3 linked regions of the Homo sapiens genome follow. The main gene of each other region encodes a partner of the protein of the gene in region 3 in a complex. Each region holds a gene or a part of one and is shown on either strand. Other genes may lie near its edges.

Region 1 (7,672 bases), on a different chromosome or scaffold from region 3:
CGTGCCTCAGCGCCTGGCTAATTTCTTCTTGAGACAGTCTCACTCTGTCACCCAGGCTGGTCTTGAACTCCTGAGCTCAAGTGATCCACCTGCCTCGGCCTCCCAAAGGGCAGGGATTACAGGCATAAGCTACTGCATCAGGCCCTTCATAGATTTTAAACAAAACAATACATTGCAAAAGACTGAATGCGGCCAGGCACGGTAGCTCACGCCTGTAATCCCAGCACTCTGGGAGGCCGAGGCGGTCAGATCACCTGAGGTCAGGAGTTCGAGACCAGCCTGGCCAACATGGCAAAACCCCGTCTCTATTAAAAAGACAAAAATTAGCCAGGTATGGTGGCACACGCCTATAATCCCAGCTACTGTAGAGACTGAGGCAGAAGAATTGCTTGAACCTGGGAGACAGTGGTTGCAGTGAGCAGAGATTGTGCCACTGCACTCTAGCCTGGGCAACAGAGTGAGAATCTGTCTCAAAACAACAGTAACAACAACAGTAACAACAACAACAACACAAAAAGACTGAATGCAGAAGCAAATGGTAATCAAGCTGTTTTCTCTTAAGCCAGACATTAAACAGATGTACAAAAACATAAAATGCCACTCTTTCATTCTTTTGAAAAGTTATTTTTCCTAGAAAATATTATTTTTAACATTTTAAAATAAAAATTTTTCAGTTCTAATGTCAAATACAGTGAAGATCAAAATAACTCATATTAAAAAAAGCTCTTGGGGTCCTCACTAATTTTTTAAGAGGGCAACAGTATCCTGAAACCAATAAATTGGAAAACCACTGAGAAAAAGATAAATATAAAAATATCTGTCATAACAACCTAGTAAATTGCTTCTGAGGAAATAGTGATCACCTTGCCTCACACTAAATCCTTAAAAAGTACAAGTATAGCTATAGTAAAAGTTAGAAAATAAGAAGTATTTTGTCTTTAAACAAGCCAATTTAAAACACCAAAAATCATCATACCCCTTGCGTTTGTAGTTGTATAACAAAAGTTTACACTTTAACTGCTGTTTATCTGTCCTCGTGCAGCTAATGGTAATAAGGACCAAGGGCGGACGAAAACGAAGTCCTAGAGCTATTTTCTGGTTTTGATTAATGCCATCTCCCATCAGAGATGGCATTCCCCTGAACTCCTAGGCCTGCTAGATCTCTCACACTTCCTTTCCTGTCAAGATGGGGAAGAATATAAAAACATTTGCTGACAGACCTAAATCACACTAAAAAGGCAAGGTCATGTAACACTTCAACAGACATTTTAAGTCACCTATGTCATTCGTTACCATTAAATAATTAGGGCAAACCTACTAGCTTTTAGGAAGAGTGAGAAAACTGTAAGGCCATTTTACTTCCCTGTCTGGCTCCTGGGCTCTGCTGCAGATTCTGGAAACCCAATATAGGAAACTTGTAAGAGTTAGCTTTTAAATGTCACTTTTTAATACTTTATTCCAGGATCTAGGAAAACATCCAGTTCTAATATACTCCCTATTTTGTCTTCACTTGATTACAGGTTGCACCCCTTCCCTCCAGCCTTGCACCTCATCCTCAGCCCAACCTCTTCCTATTCTTCCAGTGTCTTCTAGATACCTAACCCTGACTACTAGTACTTTCTGTCCCTTCTGACATTAATTCACTATTCTTAACCTTATATCCCTTGTATCTGATTTTCCGAAGCAACATACCCCTATGGCATCTATATTATTTCTATCAGGAAATTACTGCAGATACGTCAACAGAAGGTATAGTCTTTGAATGTAGATATGAACGAATACTGACAGCAATGCTGTTATTAATCAATTTTTGTTTCATATAAAGAGGCTATGAATAACTGATTTATGAAAAAAATAAAAATTGATCCTCACTTTGCCAGAAGGCTTTGGATGCATTAAGAAATTCAAGATCCTCTTCACTAGTTCACTATTTACACCTGATCTCTCCAAATCAAGAACCTCACAGATGCTCTTTAACATGGCATTTCTAAATCTGAAACAGAAAATGGAAGAAACCAAGGTGTTAATATAGGAAAGCTTACATATGTTCTCCACAATATAAAGGGAAAGCCAACCAAATTGGCTCAGTTACATACATTTAAAAAAGTGGCCAATGCTTCTATGAATCTTTTTTCTTTTTTTTTTTTTGAGACAGTTTCGCTCTTGTTGCCCAGGCTGGAGTGCAATGGCCCAATCTTGGCTCACCGCAACCTCCACCTCCCAGGTTCAAGCGATTCTCCTGCCTCAGCCTCCCAAGTAGCTGGGATTACAGGCATGCGCCACCACAGCCGGCTAATTTTGTATCTTTAGTGGAGACGGGGTTTCTCCATGTTGGTCAGGCTGGTCTCAAACTCCTGACCTCAGGTGATACGCCCGCCTCAGCCTCCCAAAGTGCTGGGATTACAGGTGTGAGCCACTGTGCCTGGCCCGAATGTGATTTAACATTAAAAAATAAACTTAAAGCATATTGATCAAAATACAGTATTTATAAAAATAACTTACTTTTTCAACATTTCTTCCTTCTTTTTATATTGGACACTTCCTTTTTCAAATGGAAAGCCACTGAACTGACCCACATTCTTCTTTAATGAGGACACCTGAAAATGTTCCTTATTATTAATGGTATTTATTACCCAGTAATGTACACAAGAATAAATTCAAAGCCAATTCAAAGTCAACATCTTTATTTTCATACCTGTCTGTAAGTTACAATACTGGCTGAACAGTCAACCAATTCAATATGGGTTCAATATTCAACATTTCTTATTCAAAACTGAAAAATGTATTTGTCATTAACATATTAACATTATAAAAATCCTACAAACTTAAGTCTCTGAAAAGAACAATTTGAACAAATTTTCACTGGGGAGTTTTTACCACAACCAAAAGTTACCTGACAGTACCAGGGGATGTGGAAAGTTACTATTTAAAAATATATCCTTTTCATAAGTAATAAAGTTACTAGTAATTCTTCTTTTCCAAATCAAGAAGGACTTTATTCTTTCAAAGTAAAGAATAGCGAGTACCACAAAAAGCTAATACCGTTCACTAGTTATGGGACTTGTGTAAATTAAATTGGTTTAAGGATTAAATGAGATTAACAGACTCACTGAAAATAAATTATGTCATGCACCAGACATTCTATTCTACTTCAGACATTCTAACACCCAACTTTACTTTGCCCACGTACAACCTAAAGCAGTTCCCTCGATTATATAATATACTAAGTCATATGTACAGTATAATAACAATCCTTTAGCAAAGAACTATCATCCAATTTATCAGGTATTTGCTAAAAATGAGATACAATTACACCAAATTCACTTTGTATGAGATTTGTATGAGATACAAATGATTTTGCCTCTTATTTGTATGAGATACAAATGAGATCATATGTATGATCTCATACAAATCATACCGACATTCACTTATTCTGAATGTCGAGAAAATCCAAAAACATGAATTTCTTTCAATACATTTAAAGGTCACTAAAACCTTTCATCACAATTTGGATTTCGTAATTTGAAATTTCAGTTTGGAATAAAAACTACTACAGGAGAAAGAGCCCTAGAGCTGGGCATACTGGCTCACACCTGTAATCCCAACACTTTGGGAGGCCAAGGTGGGAGGACCACTTGAGCTCAGGAGTTCAAGACCAGCCTGGGCACATGGCAAAACCCTGCCTCTACAAAAAGTAAAACAATTAGCCAGACACAGTATGGTGGCATGCACCTGTGGTCCCAGCTACTTGGGAGGCTTAAGCGGGAGGAACACTTGAGCCCAGGAGGTTGAGGCTGCAGTGAGCCATGTATTGCACACTGTACTCCAGCCTGGGTGACAAAGTGAGACCGTGTCTTAAAAGAAAGAAAAAAAAAAGAAAAAGAAAAAGAAAAAAGAAGACAGAGCCCTGGATATTATAATCCAAGTGCTAATATCCAGCTGTGTTTCCTGTGATAAATCATTTAATAAGTATATACCTCAGTCTGCTCAGTCATAAAGTGTGGAAATTGAACTAGTGGATCACTAACATTTACAGAAATTGATTCCATTGTGAAGTAATATACAAGTAGGTTTAAAGTGTAAAAAGGTCTTACAGTGCCTGGCCTGTTGTAAAGCAGTTTGTGTAGATTTCTAAGTTCATCGGTTTTCTTCTTACTTAGAAAAAAATGTATCCTCTCAATTTCACAAAGTTTCTGCCCCTTTCCTGGGGAAAAAAAAAAATCACAATTAAATACCTATGGCTTACTAATACATTTACAAAGTTAATTTAATGAGAATTATTTTCACAGCATAATTTACATGTAACTCTGCTCTTACAGAGCAAATTAAATAAAATTATACCAAAAGTATAAAACACTACCTTGCTGATACTAAGCTACAAACCATCATTTTCACAAATTTAGGCACTTTCACCACAAAATGAAAGGAAGCTAGAATAAACTTACCTTGTGCAATTGTAAATGGCTCTCTCTGTAAGGAAGAGACTTGCATTGTCAACCTCTCTACTTTTTTCTTTTCCCTCTTGCCTTCCACGATGAGACTCTTTTCTAGAAATTAATTTAGTATTTCTTAATTAACAAAAAGCTTAAACATTGTATTAACTTTATTAGATACACATGTAGAACAAAGTCCCCAAAACCTAATACTTTATTCTTCTTCTGAGCATGGTTTTGGAAAGCAAATGACATAAAAGAGGAAAACACTTGATTAATTAATAGAGCACCATGAAAATTTTTTCAGAGTAACATTTTACTCACCTGGCACTCACAGGGACTCAGTTAAAAAAAAAAATTAGAAAGCAAACTAATTTTTATCCAACTAAAATTATTGCCATTACAGTCCAGTCACTTCGTTTGTGAAAAAAATCTAGCTCTGTTTAATCTTTGGACATAATTCTATTTAATAATTGAGATTCAGTTTGCTGTACTTCAGGAATAATCAAATTTAGACTGGGAGATTAAGAACTTCAAAAGATATATAGAGAACAATAACAATTTAGTAAACTGACAAAAGAAACACAAATAAAGACTTCCAGGCAGAACAGCCTGAAGTACGTGGATAGGATAAAACTCTCCAAGTTTACATTTAATGCAATCAACTGGGAGAGCATTACTTTGTAGTTTATGAATAACATTCCTAATGATGACCATAAGTCACTCAAAGTTAAATTGTTTAGTCACAAAAATCTACGGTGAGGCGCGGTGGCTCATGCCTGTAATCCCAGCACTTTGGGAGGCTGAGGCGGGCGGATAACGAGGTCAGGAGATCAAGACCATCCCGGCTAACTCGGTCAGGAGATCGAGACCATCCTGGCTAACTCAGTCAGGAGATCAAGACCATCCTGGCTAACGTGGTGAAACCCCATCTCTACTAAAAAATACAAAAAATTAGCCAGGTGTGGTGGCTGGTGCCTGTAGTCCCAGCTACTTGGGAGGCTGAGGCAGGAGAAAGGCATGAACCCAGGAGGCGGAGCTTGCAGTGAGCCGAGATCGCACCACTGCACCTCAGCCTGGGCGACACAGCAAGACTCCGTCTCAAAAAAAAAAAAAAAAAAAAAAAAAAAAAAAAAAAAAAATCTAGAAAACAGGTAGCATATACTTCAAAATTCAAAACATTAAGCTCCATTTATCTAAAATAAAATCATTTTTTGAATGAAATAAAGTCAGATAAAAGAATACTATATACTGCTCGAGGTTCTGCCATTTATTTAATGCCTGTGTTGTGCAGCTGCACTCAATACTAAGAGGGGATAAATGGATGATAAAAACTGCGTATCTTTTGAAAAAGATGCTACTAAAGAAATGAGACATAAATATACGCCAATATAAAAGATAACAAAACATCTTAAGAAAGATACACAAATAAATTGCTGTGCACTGAGGAGGAATTGATTATTTTGGGACTAGAGAAAAAGGAACAAAGCACGTGTGCTGGCTTTTAAAGACAGCTTAGATTTAGTAATGTAAGGATTCGCACAGAAAGAATACTTCAGGAGAAAGGGCTATCAACAGGTATATTCTGGCCATGTTGTACAGAATGAAGACCAAACACACTAAAACAACCCCTACTATCACTCAACTTCATCAACTTAGTGATTTAAACTATTTGCTTGTCTCTGATTACTAACTACAAGCTAATGACTTCCCAGTCAATCTCCAAGCCACAACTTTCATCTGAGATTCATATTAACTAATATTGCCTCAGTATCTGTGAGGGATTGGTTCCAGGACGCCCCTCAGATGCCAAAATCCATGGATGCTCAAGTCCCTTATTTTTTAAAAAAATGGTGTAGTAGTTACATGTAACCTATGACCATCTTCCCATATACTTTATATCATCTGTAGATTACTCATAATGACTAATACAACTTAACTGATATGTAAATAGTTGTTATACTGTATTGTTTAGGAATAATAAAAAAATCTGTACATGTTCAGTACAGATGCAACCATCCATTTTTACCAATTTGTGGTTGATTGAATCCACAGATGAGGAACCCACAGATATGGAGAGCCAACAGTATATGCCTGTCTGTCATCTGGACAGCTACAATTCATGTCCTACAGGCACCTAAACTCAAAATATTCAAAAGAAAAATCATAATCATCTCCAAACTTGCTCACTTTGTGAATTTTTTTCAAAAAACATTAATACCATCCACCCACCTGCCAAAGACAGAAACCTAAGAGTCATCTTTTACTAGTCATTTCTCTCACTTCCCTTTTCCCCAAAATCACTGCCAATTTTGGCTAATCTGACCCCTTTCTTAGGACAGACTTCAGAGGATATATGAGAAAGCCTGGGTGCCTGGGCAGAAGCCTCCTGCAGGGGTGGAACTCTCACAGAAAACTGCTACTCAGGGCCAGGCGTGGTGGCTCATTCCTGTAATCCAGGCCCTTTGGGAGGCAGAGACGGGCAGGTCACTTGAGCTAAGGAGTCTGAGACCAGCCTGGGCAACATGGTAAAACCCTGCCTCTACAAAAAATACAGAAAGTACCCGGGCATGGTGGCGCATGCCTGTGGTTCCTGAGGTGAGAGGATTGCTTGAGCCTGGGAGGCAGAGTTTGCAGTGAGCTGAGATCATGTTACTGCACTCCAGCCTGGGTGACAAGTGAGACCTTGTCTCCAAAAAAAAAAAAAAAAAAGAAAGAAAACCTCTACTAGGGCAGTGTGGAGTGGAAAGGGGAAATGGGGGGTGGACCCCTAGATTCACCACCAAGGCTCTATTGGCTAGTGGAGCTGTGGGAAGGGGGCTGCCACCTCCAAACTCCAGCATGGTAGAGCCACAAGCAGCTTGCATCCTGAGCTGCCCAAAGCCTTGGGACCCCTCACCCCTTGCACCAGCGTGCTCTGGATGCCAGACATGCAGTAAAAGGAGATAATTTTGGAGCTTTAAGATTTAAAGACTGCCCTGCTAGGATTCAGACTTGTAGGCCGGGCGCAGTGGCTTACGTCTGTAATCCTAAAACTCTGGGAGGCTGAGACGGGCGGATCACCTGAGGTCGGGAGTTTGAGACCAGCCTGACCAACATGGAGAAACCTTGTCTCTATTAAAAATACAAAATCAGCCAGCTGTGGTGGCATATGCCTGTAATCCCAGCTACTCGAGAGGCTGAGGCAGTAGAATCCCTTGAACCAGGAGGCAGAGGTTGCGGTTAGCCGAGGTCAGGCC
Region 2 (6,957 bases), on a different chromosome or scaffold from region 3:
CTACAACTGGAAAGCATACTAAGAAAGCAAACCTATCCATCTACTGGGATTAAAGGGCATATAAAATGAAAAAAAAAAAAGTTACTCCTTGCAAAGCTAGGATGACCAGATGGCCCCTTGCCACCTCCCAGAAGGGAATCTGAAAGTCAGCTAATCACCAGCCTGTTTGTGAGGAAGAGCCAGTAAGAACTCCGCCTTTGCACAGCAAATCTGTATCATCTATTCTTCTTTTTCCCTCCACTCAGGATCCCTACACCCAGCCAGCATGGGCATCAAGGAAAGCAGGCTGGTAAACTTCAGGGCAGAGATCCGCTTCTGAAGGCAGCTAGTAATGTCTCACCCAGCTAAGCCTTGCTACTAGGCAACAGCACTGCCTCACTCAAGAAATTATCAATCTGCATCAGGCCAGATGCAGTGGCTCACACCTGTAATCTCAACATTTGGGAGGCGGAGGCAGGCAGATCATTTGAGGCCAGGAGTTCGAGACCAGCCTGGCCAATATGGTGAAACCCTGTCTCTACTAAAAATACAGTAATTAGCCAGGTGTGGTGCATGCCTGTAGTCCCAGCTATCCGGAAGGCTGAGCCAGGAGAATTGCTTGAACCTGGGTGGCAGAGGTTGCAGTGAGCCTAGATCGCACCACTGCACTCCAACCTGGGTGACAGAGCAAGACTCTGTCTCAAAAGTCACTAGTGTGCATGAGACACAGAAGCTTTGACAAAAATTCAAACAGCCATGGAGAAATACCGATGGTCTACAGAAGCAGTGCTTAGTCCTTGCTAGAATTCTCTAGTTTTGAAACATGGGAATAAGTAGAACTGCCAATGTGTCTGATGAGTAACTGTGGTATTTATTGCAACTGAGCTCTAGAAAGAGGCTACTGTTGTCTATGATCTGTCCTTTCCCCAACCACCCAGGCATCTCTTTGTCCACTCCAGTGATGTCTGCAGACCACCCTAATGTCACCTCAAGAGGGGTGAACCAACCTTCCACTGGCCAGCATAATAGCCTTGGAGTTTCATCTCAGATTTCATAGTGAATTCGGCTTTCAGGGCAGGATTTAGTTTGGGATGAAAAAGTGTTTCCATTAAGTATTGTATTTGAATCCTGGGTTCTTCAATGATTGAGGAAGACTAATAAAGAAAAGTTTACAAATAATCACATGAACTAAATTAGGACTTCAAAAGTTTAATGAAGTGAAATAATCTCTACTTATCTCTATTTCTTTTCCCAATTTATTCACAATCTATATACATAAAAACTCCTTTGGGTTGTCTACATCAAAAACAAGAATTTCTGTAGTAAGCAAACTATATGCATATTCTTTGTATTAATAAAATATTTTTGTCAATGTAGTGTTTACATTGTTTATATTACAAAGTTTCCAACATTAACTAAATTCTGATAAACTTTCTTCTTGTACTGGAGATACATGATATGCAACATTAAATATTGGTGTCCTAGAGATAAGAGCCACACACCTTGTATGCTGTAGAGTTAAAGGCAAGTACCTAGATCCTCAATCTTCTCATAGCCTCATTACCCCCCAAAAAAGCTGTCATTAGAGCTAGGGAATCTCTCCGGACACAAGGGAATCTGTGGTAACAAAGAATGTAGACCCATGTTGCCAGTCTTGAGTATCTCAGGTGAGGTGCCAGTCCACTTCTGAAACAATGCTTTGCCTCTTATGCCTGTGGAGAAACTATTCCACTTCTTCATTTTTTTCATTTAGAATCATATCATTTCAGTCTTTTTCTTCTTACTTCAATTTTGGTTCTTGTAGCATAGTCTTTTCTGGTAACTACTGTAAAGTTAATGCTGCAAAAGCCTATTTAATCATTCTAATAAAAACCTTAACAGATCCAAAACGATTCTGGGATGTACACAGCGAAGTTAATTCTGCAGCACTGCTCCACACCAAGAATGTATTTTGCCCATTATCTGTCATCTGAGGGATGCCCTCACCTTTGATCTTGACATCAGATTCCAACAGGCAAAGATACATTTTGGTAACAGCTATGTACATATACAAAATATGTATATATTTTGGTAACAGCTACTCCGTTAATACATGTCTTCTAGCATTCCATTCATTTGGATTTATGAGTTCATCAATCCACCTTGTGTCATTAATCTACTTTGTTTAAATTACCCTCCTTAGTACCCATTTTTTTAGCAATGTTCTACTCCAAAACTACTGGTTTGAAATATAGTAGCACATCCTTTCAAAAAGATTTGTTTTTTAGATTCAAAGGGATAGAACAAGATGAAATTTATTTTTTACTCAGAATTTTTCTGAAAAACCACAGGGGTGTTTTACAATGCTTTTTAAGATCGAGATTAAGAAAGGTACTAAGCCAAAGATCATTTATATAATCATTTATATAATTAAATCCAGATTAGTTCAAACAATCGGCATATATTAAATACTCAAAGGGCAGATGGAGCAATCCTTATCTGAAATGCCTGGAACCAGAAGTGTTTTTAGCATTTTCCAGACTTTAGAATACTTGCATTATACTTATCAGTTCAGCATCCCTAATCCAAAAATCAGAAATGCCCTAATGAGCATTCAAATTATGGAGCATTTCTGATTTTAGATTTTTTGATTAGGGATGCTCAACTTGTACTCTATGCTTAGGATTTGCTTCTCTCAACTTTATGAAAAACAAAATGTAGGCCAGGTGTGGTGTAGGCTCACAACTATGATCCCAGCACTTTGGAATGTAGGCTTACACATGTAATCCCAGCACTTTGAGAGGTTGACGCAAGAGGATTGCCTGAAGTCGGCGTTTGAGACCGGACTGGGCAACATAGCAAGGCCCTATCTCTACAAAAACTAAAAAAACTTAGCTGGGCGTGGTATCTGTAGTCCTAGCTACTTGGGAAGCTGAGGTGGGAGGATCACTTGAGCCCTGAAGTTTGAGGTTGCAGTGAGCTGTGATTGCACCACTGCACTCCAGCCTGGGTGACAGAGCAAGACCCTGTCTCTTAAAAGTAGTAATAATTACACTTTATAATAGCCTCCAGCACTTTGTCAGATGTACAATTAAGCAATCTTTCATGCTTTGTTGTTAAAAAAAAAAAAAGACATTTATTCAGTATCATGATCAGATTATTAAAACATTTAGCAATCAACAGCATGGGTACAAAACAAAACAATCTACACTGAAACCCTGTGTTGGAATGCTTTACTTTCCACAGAACAGAAACTATTATACAATTAGTCACAAATACAGTCATCAAGTTCTGTGATCGTGGTGGCTTTGGTGGCAGCCATGGTGGTGGTGATGGATATGGTGGCAGTGGGGATTGCTATAATAGATTTGGTAATGATTGAAGCAATTTTGGAGGTGGTAAAAGCTACAATGATTTTGGCAATGACAACAATCAGTCTTCAAATTTTGGACCCATGAAGGGAGGAAACTTTGGAGGCAGAAGCTCTGGGCCCTATGGTGGTAGAGGCCAATACTTTGCCAAACCACGATACCAAGGTGGCTAAGGCAGTTCCAGTAGCAGTAGTGGTTAAGGCAGTTCCAGTAGCAGTAGTAGCTGTGGCACTGACAGAAGATTTTAATTACTGCCAGGAAACAAAAGCTTAGCGGGAGAGGAAAGCCAGAGAAGTGACAGGGAAGTGACAGGTTAAAACAGATTTGTGAACTTGGCCAAACACAGTGGTGGCAGGGCCTAGCTGGTTCATGCTTTTTTTTCAAGTGAGTTTCCCTTCACACAGTTTCCATTTGAGTCCCTAAGCTCTCAGGGCTACCACTATACTTGATTCATTTTGCATTTCCACTGTGTATCTCCCTCCCAGTTTCTCCTCCTCTTGAAAACATCACTTTTGTGACCTCCGTAAGTTTTCTTCAGCCTTACATTTTTTCAATTTCTTCCAAACTGAGGTGATAACTCTTACAAATTCTTTTTCCTTTCATAAGTAACCATTCCTCATGCATGTATTAGACCTTTAACTGTTAAGAATCTAACATAGTATTTAAAAAGTTAATTTTGAGGTAGCACTAAATTCAAATTACTTTACAATTTGCCATAAATACTGCGTTTTGCTTGACATTAACAGCAGCAATTCCACATTTCAAGAAATTAAGCAGTATTAGTAATACTGCAGGTATCAAAATTTTTTTTTTAAATCTTCAATTACATGTGGGCAGATGAAAACAACTACTAATAGAAATTTAAGGGAAAGATATCCAATTAAGGGAAATGTGTCCTAAAGGAAAAAGTGAATAAAAATTGAGAAAACAATTAAAGAAATGGAAAGAAAAGACCACTTTACGGATTATAAAAGTTATATTTATTCACGATGCTACATTTATTGCATTCCCTTAGAAAAATGGAGAACTGTTTATGTACCCAATCTGCACATATAAAATTTTATACAAATTATGTGTAGCACATAAAGGCCTCTGGTACAGCTAAAATCCTGACACTATAATTTGGGTATTCCTGCTTTAGGGTCTCCAGTTTATCAGGTCTGTCCATAGAAAACAGAAACTGGAATTATAGTCAGTCTTGCTAACACTTAGAAACTACTTTAAAATACAATAAAATTTTCATTTACCCTAAAAGTCCAAATGGGAGGGGATATATTTTGTTACCAATTTCAATGTAACAGTATGACAAATTCACACCTCATTTTGGCTGGGCTTTCAAAATTAAAAAAAAAAAATCACCTTAGTTCTGACATTATCTAAGTTGTGGCTGCTTCAGAAGGTCATATGACAAAATATTTACCAAATAATTAAAAATAATAATAATAATATTCCTTTTACAAAATGGTACAGTAATACCTTAAGGAACCGGAAAATACTAAATGTCTTTGGCTATACAACTAAAAGGCCATTCTTTCAAAAGAATAGGGCATATTCATTTCAGAATCAACTAAAAAAAACAGAAAGCATAACAGAAATATGCATAGAATTTAAGTATACTTTGTCTTGCCTTCTTTTCCCATTCTACCCACATAAGCAAGGAGAATGCAATTTATATAATCTTTCCAGATGAGACTCAATAGCACTACAAAGAAAATACCCAAATTTCTGCAAAGGCAAAGTGAATTAAAATAATTACACAACTAGGTGAAGACTGAAAGGGACAAATGTTATTTGCAATTTTCTTTTTAACTTGTTTTTAAGCCTTACAAGTGTAGAAATTATAGCTAATAAACAAAAAGTCACAATCTTCACAAATGGAACTACAATAGAAAAATAAATCAAATGAAACACTTAGTAATAAATGAAGCCTATTTTATTACTTCAAGTGTTAATGATAAAAAAATTTCAGCACAGCTGTTGCATTTAAAAAAGTGAAACTACATACTATGTTTCTAGCTCAGTAAACAGATGAACCTGATGTCTTTAAATGACATAACAATTGAGCATTGTACAGTACATCTTATGAAGACCCGTAAATTAAAGAACTACTGGTTTAAAGTTAGTGATTATGAAACAAAAACATATTCATAGTTTCAGCTTCTTTTTTCTTCCTCGACCATCAGGTGCGCCATCCATTTTACGTTTCTGTGTCTACAAACAGACAGAAGGATTACTTTTCACAAGACTAATATAAACATGAAATATAGTTGCAGACACATTATAACACTTTAGTAATAACAACTACTACAAAGTAATAGGTATGAGACTTTTCCCCCAGGCTATATAAATCTTTCAAAGCAAACTATAAAGCCTCCAAATAATCTTACCTACTTATTTTACTTACAGAATAAAAAATGTTAATGTTAATAATGACGTTATAAAACTAATGCACAATTAACAGTAGTAGATCAATATCAAATAAATGCAAGCTTCCCAAAATAGTAAGAAACACTTGAGTTTTTAAAAGGCAGTTACATAAGTACCAAATATTATCCAGAGATACTCATTTATTCATGACTTTATAAATTAACCATTTTTTATTAAATTAACTATTATTAAATAACATTTTTTCCCTTTAAGTGTTTGCCTTCACATTGCTAAAACATCACTGAAATAATCAAAGCTTAGAGACTAACAGTAAAAGTCATAATACCACTGCTTTTCCAATGTTTCTTAAATTATTCTAAAATTATAACTTGTATTCTCAATGAGATGTGTACACACTTGACATTTACGAGACATACTTTCCTGATTTTCACGAAGCCCCATATTAAGGACTACCATATCATCAAGAAGTGATTTTTCCCACACAACCCAGTCAAGCTAAATTTGTACTTTTTAAGTATTTCAAGGAAGTCCTAGCTACAGCAATCAGACGAGAGAAAGAAAGAAAGGACATCTAAATCGGAAACAAAGAAGTCAAATTGCCCTATTTGTAAATGACATAATCTTACATTTGGAAAAACCTAAAGACTCCATCAAAAAACTATTAGAACTCATAAACAAATTCAGTGACACTGCAGGATACAAAATCAACATACAACAAACAGTAGCATTTCTATGCCAACAGTGAAGAATGTGAAAAATAAAAAGTAATCCCATTTACAGTAATTACACGTGAAATAAAATACCCAGGAATTAATCAAAGAAGCGAAAGATCTCTAAGATAAACTATAAAACACTGATGTAAGAAACTGAAGACACAAAAAAATAGATATTCCATGTTCATGGATTAGCAAATTCAATATTGTTAAAATGTCCATACTACCCAAAGCAATCCACAGATTCAATGCAATCCTTATCAAAATACCCATGACATTCTTCACTGAAATAGAAAAAAAAATACTAAAATTTATATGGACCCACAGAACACCCAGAAATAGCCAAAGCCACCCTAAGCAAAAAGAATAAAACTGGAAGAATCACATTACCTGACTTAACTTATAGTACCGAGCTATAGTAACCAAAACAGCATGGTGCTGGTATAGAAACAGATACATAGATCAGTGCAACAGTGGAAAAGAACAGAGAACCCAGAGATAAGTCCGTAAAGTCCATACATCTACAT
Region 3 (8,345 bases):
CATTCTCATCCTCACTGGTCTCGGGGTTCAGCACCTGGGGAGGGGTGCCAGCCACTGACCCATTTGCAGCCCCCGCCCTCCTCTCCAGGCCCCACTCAGCCTTGACCAAAGACCTCCATTTCCCAGAAGAAAACGGAGCCTAGGAGAGGCGGCCAGGCCAGGCCAAGGCCTCGTTGAGACCCCTCCCACCGGCCGCAGGCTCCCGGCAGGGAGGCTGGAGGCTGAAGCGGCACCCCTGGTGCAGCTCGCTGCTCAGTGAGCCCCAGCCCACATTCCACTCCCAAAGGTCCCAACTCACATCCAGAATTAGCTGCAGGGCACGCGGGGTCAGGTGGGAGCAGATGTGGCCAAACACGCTCCGGGCCACCTGGCGCATGAGGTGGCTGGGCTGGGCCAACAGGGCCAGCAAGATCTCCACCAGCACCTCTACCCACGGGGGTTCCTGGGGGTCTGCAAGAGGGAGGGGTTGAGCCCGGATAGGGGACCGCTGGCCCCACCCCACCACTCTAGTCCCTCTCGTGACCAAGGACCCACCGATGGTCTTGGTGCGGCTCCGGCGGGGCTTCTCTCCCAGACTTTTCCTGATGCAGGTCTGGATGTCACCCAGCAGGTCACAGCTCTCTGCAGGGGACTGCGGGCAGGGTAGGACACACACTGGGGCCAGGCCCTGTCCCCAGCCCTTCTAAACCAGGCAAGGGGCTGGCCAAATGGCAGCAGTGGCATCAAGAAGCCTCCAACACCCAGCCACTGGCCCGCCCTGGCCAGTCACCCCCACAATCCAGAACAGAAGACCCCAGCTGGACACCCCAAGAGCTGAGGGCTTTTGAGATGGAGTCTCGCTCTATTGCCCAGGCTGGAGTACAGTGGTCTGATCTCGGCTCACCACAACTTCTGCCTCCCAGGTTCAAGCCATTCTCCTGCCTCAGCCTCCCAAGTAGCTGGGATTGCAGGCGTGTACCACCATGCCCGGCTAATTTTTGTATTTTGAGTAGAGACGGGGTTTCACCATGTTGGCCAGGCTGGTCTTGAACTCCTGACCTCGTGATCCACCCCCTTGCCCCCCTTGGCCTCCCAAAGTGCTGGGATTGCAGGTGTGAGCCCCCGCGCCCAGCTAGCTGACGGCTTTTTCACACCTAATACGCAGTTACAGGATCCAAAAGCCTGAAGGGGACAAGGAGTCCAACTCCCCCTTGGACACTCAAGAAAGGCAGAACCTGACAAGGATGGTCAGGGTCCCAGAGAAGCCAGCAAGCCCCAGCCCCCAATTCATAATTCTAGATTATTCCCTCCATGCTTGGCTTGGCATGAGAGACAGAATTGAAAGTCATTAGTTTTAACTAATTTAATTACATTGAACTCATCTGACTGGGGATAACCCCAGACTCGAGTGAGGTGGCGTGGTGTGCGCATGTGCGTGTGCAGGAGCTCTTGAAAACTGTGTGATCTTTGGTACCTAAAAAGCAGACTTTCCCCTCATAATGCAGTCGGCAGCTTGAACGTTTAGGCCAGGGTGGGACAAAGCAGCCCAAAGCCCTTGTCATTGCTCTCCGGCTCCCAGGCTGTGTGCCCAAGCAGGTCCCCGTCCTCCTCTGGGCTGCACCTTTTTTTTTTTTTTTCTAAGACAGAATCTTGTTCTGTTGCCCAGGCTGGAGTACAGTGGTGTCATCTCAACTCACTGCAACCTCCGCCTCCCAGGTTTAAGCAATTCTCCTGCTTCACCCTCCTGAGTAGCTGGGATTACAGGCACCTGCCACCACACCTGGCTAATTTTTGTATTTTAGTAGAGAAGGGGTTTCACTCTGTTGGCCAGGCTGGTCTTGAACTCCTGACCTCGTGATCACCTGCCTTGGTCTCCGGAAGTACTGGGATTACAGGTGCGAGCCCCGAGCCTGGCCAGGGCTGCACCTTTTATCTAAGGCTCTGACACAGCAAACTGCAGCCTCCTCTGTCCAAGTCAAGTTCGGAGATCCCAAGGCTGGGGGCAGGCTCCACATGTGTCCTGGAATCACCAGGACTCTGCTGCTATCAAAGGCCTGACGTCAAGAATTGGAAGGGGCATCGTGGCCAACCTTTCCCCAAACAGCTCATCCACATGCTGGGCTCAGAATAACCAAAGCTGGCAAGTAAGGCAACCACAGTCAAGTGGCCAGACGGGAGCAAGCAAGAGACCCACCTACTCAGGCTACAGAAGACCTAAAGCAGCCCCAATAAGAGCAGCTTATGTCATGAGAAGAAAACTCAAAAGAAATCAGGGTACTGAGCCTCGAATGTGGTCAGGGCTTCTTGATGGGAAGAACCGAGCGGGAGAGCCCGTTGCCAGAAGGTGTTCCCACAGCAGGGGGTACAGTGCAAGCTCCTTTGCCTCTGAGTCTTAGTTTCTCCATGTCAAACATGGAGAGGGGGTGTCTGCCTCAAAGCTGTGGGGATTACGAGATCCTGCATGGAAAGCCTAGGACACCAGCTGGTGCCGCTAAGTGGCCGGAGGGATGTTTCCACCTGTGACAAAGTTGGCTTCAAAAACCTCCCAACTTAACTCCCCCAGAACCTTTCCTGGAAACCCGCACAGCCCTCAAAAGCCTCTCGGTAGGGGGCCCATTGTGCCATAGAACCCCAGGCTCACAGCCCCTCCCTCCCAGGCCCCAGTACCTTGAGGAGGTGGATGCCCACGAGGAGCAGAAGGTGCTGGAAGGCAGCAGCCCTGGCCTCTGCGGAGTGGGCCTCCAGCTCCTTCAGAGTCTGCAGCATCCTGCGGGGAGACAGGCGATTCCCAGGCCCCTGCACCAGTCAGACTGCAGCGTCCTGCCCACCCCCTGGAAATCCCACGTGCTCACCGGTCCCAGGCCTGGCGCTGCTGCGCAGTGAAGGGTGTCACGGTGGTCACGTTGTGGCTGTGATTCAACAGGAGGTCTGCGAACTGCACCAGGTGGTAGGTCCAGGGCTGCCCACCCTGGGTCTGGCCCGGTGCCTGCTTGAACTGCGTGCTGAGGGTCTGCAACAGACTGGGCAAGGGATGGGGCTTGGGGTCAGCAGACCAGATGAGTCAATGTAGCCGCCTCCCTCCGCCCTCCCCAGGGCTCGGTCTCCCGCCTCTCCAGGACCTACTAGAACTCCGGGGGCCTCTGCCGTTGTTCCCAGCTTAGGGGACCTGGAGGGAGCAGGCGCCCTCAAGGCCTTCCCACCTTCGGACCTCTCCTGGGCTGCCCAAGACTCACCTGAAGAAGGCACTGCTGACAGCCTCTCGGGCCTGGTTTTCCAAAGGGAAGGAGAACGGGTGCTTTGTCTCAGGGATCTGGGATGTGGGCTTCTTTGTGACAAAGAACGAGTGGAACAAACAAAACCTGGGGAGGGTGGGAGAGTGGCCATAGCCATTCACTGCCATTGGTTTTTACAGGCTCCCCTCCTTGGATGGTACCACCGAGGGTACAAGGCCAGGAGGAGGAGGAGCCGCCCTTCTGCCCTGGGTACAGTCCTCGGGGGCCTGACGGGCAAGGCTGGAGGGGGCTGGGCTGGGCTAGGATGGGAAGGGGCCGTTTCTCTGCTCTGGATCCCCAGCTGAACGCGGGTTAACCCGAGCTAGAGAGAGTCAGTGCCCCTCTCAAGGAACCAACAGATGGGAGGCTGTGTGGTCATGGCCAAGTCAGGTCACTGCTCCTGCGAACATGGGACAGCCCCCTCTTGCAACCGTGCATGTTGAGGGTGACGTGAGCACCCAGCTCTGCACTGGCACAGACGAGGCAGGTGTGGGGCAGAAGGCTTCCCTGACACCTCCCACGTGCAAAAGCTGCCTGCAGGGCGCGCAGAGCACACCTGAACCTTTTAGGCCCCTGCAGCTGGGGTGCCTCCTGGGCCCCTTCCCTTCACGGGTTCCTGAGGAATTCCCAAGTCCCCTTGTGCCTGCCCCCCACTGATGACTCAACCCAAAGGCTTCTGGCTCCAGGGGATGCAAACTAGGACGAGTTAAGGGGCCCCATTCCTTGGCCACACGCCCATGGGAAGCTGGGAATCCAGCACAGCTCGCACCTGGCCACCTGCTCAGTCAAGGCCTCCTCCATCTCCAGGTGCAGGCTGTCCACAATGCTCACCAATCGAAAGATGATCCATTTCCTCAGCCGGAACACAGCTCGCTCAGGCCTAGCGGGGCAGGAGGCGAGGTCATGTGAGCCACTTATAACTGGCAGAAACAGGCTGGGCCCAGTGGCTCACACCTGTAATCCCAGCACTTTGGGAGGCCAAGGCTGGCCAATCACTCGAGGTCAGGAGTTCGAGACCAGCCTGACCAACACGGTGAAACCCCATCTCCATTAAAAATACAAAAATTAGCTGGGTGTGGTGGCGGGTGCCTGTAGTCCCAGCTACTGGAGAGGCTGAGGCAGAGAATCACTTGATTGCTTGAACCCGGGAGGCAGAAGTTGCAATGAGCTGAGATCACACGCCACTGCACTCCAGCTTAGGCCACAGAGAGTGAGACTCTGTCAAAAAAAAAAAAAAAAAAAAAAAAGAACCAGCAAAAACAGGACATTCCTTTGCCTGATCTCAGAGACAACACTCCAAGATCTCCCCATCCCGATCGCCAGTGTGGGGACACACAAGTAAACTGAGGCCTCATATGAGAGCTAAGGCTCTTCCCCCTCGCTCCTCTCATGGTTTAGAGCCAGGACGCTGTGGAGGGCGGGCTTGGGTCGCGGGGCTCTGCAGGCCTAGGAAGTTAACTCCTAAATTAGGTGTCCTCCCCCAAGGTCCACTCACATGTGGAGCGATGAATCCTGGGCTTTCTTCTGGTTGTTGGTGCTGAAGTCAACCAAGGAGTCCAGGTCTGGCTGGAGAAACATGGCCCGCAGCCAGGCCACATAGCCCTGCAGGGCCGGAGGGCTCAGGAACCGCACGACCCGCCAGAAAGTAGGCGTGACAGGGAGGCCTTGGTTGGTGACAGATGAGAAGGCCACTAGCACGGCCAGCTGCCGCTCAGGGTCATCCTGGCACCCCTCTAGGAAGGTGCCCACGTAATCGTCCATCTCTGGGGCAAACTTGAACTGCTTTGGGAGCTGCAAGAGTTAGGCATGGCGCTGAGCCCACCAGCCCAGGGGGGCAGGCGGTTAACAACCCAACAGCCAAGGGGGCAGGCGGGCAACAGCCCAACAGCCCAACAGCCCGGGGGCAGGCGGGCAACAGCCCACCAGGCTTGTGCCCACTACAGGTTAAATCGAGCCCCGGCAATCTCCTGTTGTACACAGCTAGGCTGTGCCTGAACTTGCAACAGTCCAGTCACCCCAGTGCTTTTGTCTGGCGTCAAGGCCTCTGTGGGTCTGACTGCCCCAGCTTCAGCACCTCCGGCCCCAGAAGGCCCCTCTTTCCGCCTTGCTGGATGGGGATGGCCTGTTTTCCTGGCTCAACGCAGGGCAGAGTGGTAGTTAGGAGGCGAGACTGACCTGGGTTCAAAGCCCACGCTGCCAATTCCTAGCCGTGTCATCTTCGGGACCAAAAACAACCACCTCTCACGCGCTTACTCAGTGCCAGCACCCGCGCTCCGCCTTTTTGGGCGGCAGCTTAGCATTTTTAGCAACTCTTTGCGGTTGGCCAATATTGTCATTGCACAGGTGAGTACAGTGAGACACAAAAACACCTAGAGGTAACTTCTCAGGGTCAGAGGCTCCCAGTGGGATAGTGTCCGGCTTCACAGCCCAAGCTGTTTTCCTTTCAATTTTTTAGACTTGTGCCCCTGGCATGTAGTGCCATGATCATGGCTCACTGCAGCCTCAAAATTCTGGGTTCAAGGGATCCTCCCACCTCAGCCTCCCGAGTAACTGGGACTACAGGTGTGCACCACCATCCAACCCAAGCTCTTAACCACTGCCTGATACTTCAAGTCTCCCCCTCACCCAGAATGACAGCTCTCTGAAACTCACTGCAAAGATAAAATGAGCTGGTGAGAACAGTCAACCCAGCAGCACTTACTGGGCACCAGGCTCACTGGTGCCCAAACATGGTCATGACGACTGTTCTCATCACTGCCACATGGGCGGGGGCGGAGAGAGGTCTGAACAGCCCGCTGGCTATCCATGCCCACAAGGGGGCCTGCTGGCAGAAGGGCCTGACTTTATCAAAACTGTCAGAGGGAAGCCAGGTACAGTGGCTCACGTCTGTAATCCCAGCACTCTGGGAGGCCAAGGCGGGTGGATCACCTAAGGTCAGGAGTTCGAGACCAGCCTGGCCAACATGGCAAAATCCCGTCTCTACCAAAAATACAAAAATTAGCTGGGCGTGGTATTGGGCGCCTGTAATCCCAGCTACTCAGGAGGCTGAGGCAGGAGAATCGCTTGAACCTGGGAGGCGGAGGTTGCAGTGAGCCAAGATCTCACCACTGCGCTCCAGCCTGGGCGACAAGAGCAAAACTTCATCTCAAAAAAAAAAAATTTGTCCGAGGGAAAGGGGTTCAGGCAGCTCACTACCCAGACGGAGGGGACACCCATAGCTCTAGCCAAGCCCCCGAGGTGCCCTGCTCCCCTTTTTGGCAGGGAGAGCTCCACGTCTAGCCTTTCTGGCAGTGTCGAGCTGCACGGGCATTACCCACCTTAGCAGTGCACACGTGCTCCCCGTAATGGCGGATCACGTCTCCCTGCATCACCAGGTGCAGCTGCTCCTTGGTCAGCAGGGGCAGGGCCGCGCCCAGCAGGCGGAAACACAGGTAGCTAAAGGGGGTGCAGGACAGAGCCTGGTCAGAGCCCTTGGTGCCCCTGGTGGGAACCTCAGGACTAGTGGCCTAGCCCACTTCACGGACAGGGAAGGGGGCCGAGAGAGGACACGCGTCGCCCGCACCTGGCTGGCCAGAACTGCATCTTCAGCAGCCCTTGTTCCACCACCTCCTTCCAGAACCGTGGGAACTTGTCTTCCTTGAGTGCCAGGCGGAGCAGGTCCAGAGCAATGGCGGGCAGCTTGCGGTCCTTCTTCACAGAGGAGGCGGCCATCTTCAGCACATTCACCAGCCTGCGGAGGGCAAGGGACTCAGGGAACACTTGCCTCACAGGCAAGGGCCAGGGTGACAAGAGCAGCCGGGACACCCCCAGGCCAAACGACAAATCTGGGCCTGGCCAGATGCAGTCCCTTGGCCCCAGGGAGGGCAAATCCGCCCACCTCCATCACACCTGGGGACATTCTCATCTGAGAATAGGTTCACGGATCCCACCAGCTTCTTGAGCTTGGAGGGCACCTTCTGCTGGGCCAGGAGGAAGAGCTCTAGCTGTTCAGGGGAGCTGAGTATTATATTCAAGTCGGCTTTGAGGACCTCCGGCAGGATCTCCTGCAATGTGGCCTTCGAGACCTAAGGATGGAGGGAGAAGAAATCGTGACTTCCTCTGCGGGGTGAGCCTGGTGGATCCTGTTCTACCTGCTCCTGACACGGGGCCACCTGGTGAGGTATCAGAGTCATCAGAGGCCAGTTGCTAACAAAACTCAAATTCCCAGGCAGCGGGGTTTTTGACAAGCATCCCACTGACGCTAACTGGCCCCTGGAGGTACCTGCCCCCCACCCCTTATTTTTTTTTTTTAAGACAGAGTCTCACTTTGCCACCCAGGCTGAGTATAGTGGTGTGATCTTGGCTCACTGCAACCTCCGCCTCCCAGGTTGAAGCAATTCTCCTGCCTCAGGTGGGATTAAAGGTGTGCGCCATCACACCCAGCTAATTTTTGTATTTTTAGTAGAGATGGGGTTTCACCATGTTGGCCAGGCTGGTCTTGAACTCCTGACCTCAAGTGATCTGCCCACCTCGGCCTCCCAAAGTTCTGGGATTACAGGCGTGAGCCACCATGCCCGGTCAAAGCTACCCTTTTAATTATTCCTTTTTTTGGTATTTCAGAGTACTAGCTCATTTCATACACGAGGAGCCCTAGGTGGAGAGCTGGGATTCGAATTCAGGTCCTTCTGGCTCTGAGGTCAAGACTGCACAGTAAGCCCTGGCCTGGAGACCTGCTACCCCTGCCTTTCTCTTCGGTGACAAAAGGGCCTAGGGTGCTACCTTCCCAAGTAGGGCAGTGGAGGCCCACAAGGGGCCAGCCTTGACCAGGATAACAATGGCAAACGTTTTATATACTTGCCACGTGCCAGGCACAGTTCCAGAGCTGCACTGCCCAATACGGTAGCCACAGCCACACAGGGCTGCTGAGCGCCTGAAAGGTGGCTAATCTGAACAGGGGTGTGCCTAAGTGTAACATACACACTGGATTTTGGAGACACCTGACAAAAAGAGTGTAAGATATCTCAACACTTTTTTATACCAATGCACACTGAAATAATATTTTAGATATACCAGATAAAGTCAAATGTCACTAAATGTTACTAAATGACACCTGTT

Evidence for each region. The genes of interacting proteins can lie anywhere in the genome.
Region 1: MYBBP1A (region 3) and DEK share a complex: the UniProt entries of both Homo sapiens proteins name them as parts of the B-WICH complex.
Region 2: MYBBP1A (region 3) and SMARCA5 share a complex: the UniProt entries of both Homo sapiens proteins name them as parts of the B-WICH complex.

Annotation. Positions count from the first base shown.
Region 1 is NC_000006.12:18,253,859-18,261,530, forward strand, and holds part of DEK (protein DEK), read right to left. Parts: intron 4,548-7,672; coding exon 4,446-4,547; intron 4,205-4,445; coding exon 4,095-4,204; intron 2,598-4,094; coding exon 2,503-2,597; intron 1,994-2,502; coding exon 1,873-1,993; intron 1-1,872. UniProt on the Homo sapiens protein: Involved in chromatin organization.
Region 2 is NC_000004.12:143,551,702-143,558,658, reverse strand, and holds the end of SMARCA5 (SWI/SNF-related matrix-associated actin-dependent regulator of chromatin subfamily A member 5), read right to left. Parts: intron 5,541-6,957; coding exon 5,475-5,540; 3' UTR 1,173-5,474; downstream 1-1,172. UniProt on the Homo sapiens protein: ATPase that possesses intrinsic ATP-dependent nucleosome-remodeling activity.
Region 3 is NC_000017.11:4,545,312-4,553,656, forward strand, and holds part of MYBBP1A (myb-binding protein 1A), read right to left. Parts: intron 7,316-8,345; coding exon 7,140-7,315; exon of another isoform or gene 7,129-7,139; intron 6,982-7,128; coding exon 6,814-6,981; intron 6,687-6,813; coding exon 6,569-6,686; intron 5,043-6,568; coding exon 4,747-5,042; intron 4,132-4,746; coding exon 4,021-4,131; intron 3,339-4,020; coding exon 3,213-3,338; intron 3,000-3,212; coding exon 2,832-2,999; intron 2,747-2,831; coding exon 2,647-2,746; intron 632-2,646; coding exon 535-631; intron 451-534; coding exon 299-450; intron 35-298; coding exon 1-34. UniProt on the Homo sapiens protein: May activate or repress transcription via interactions with sequence specific DNA-binding proteins. Repression may be mediated at least in part by histone deacetylase activity (HDAC activity).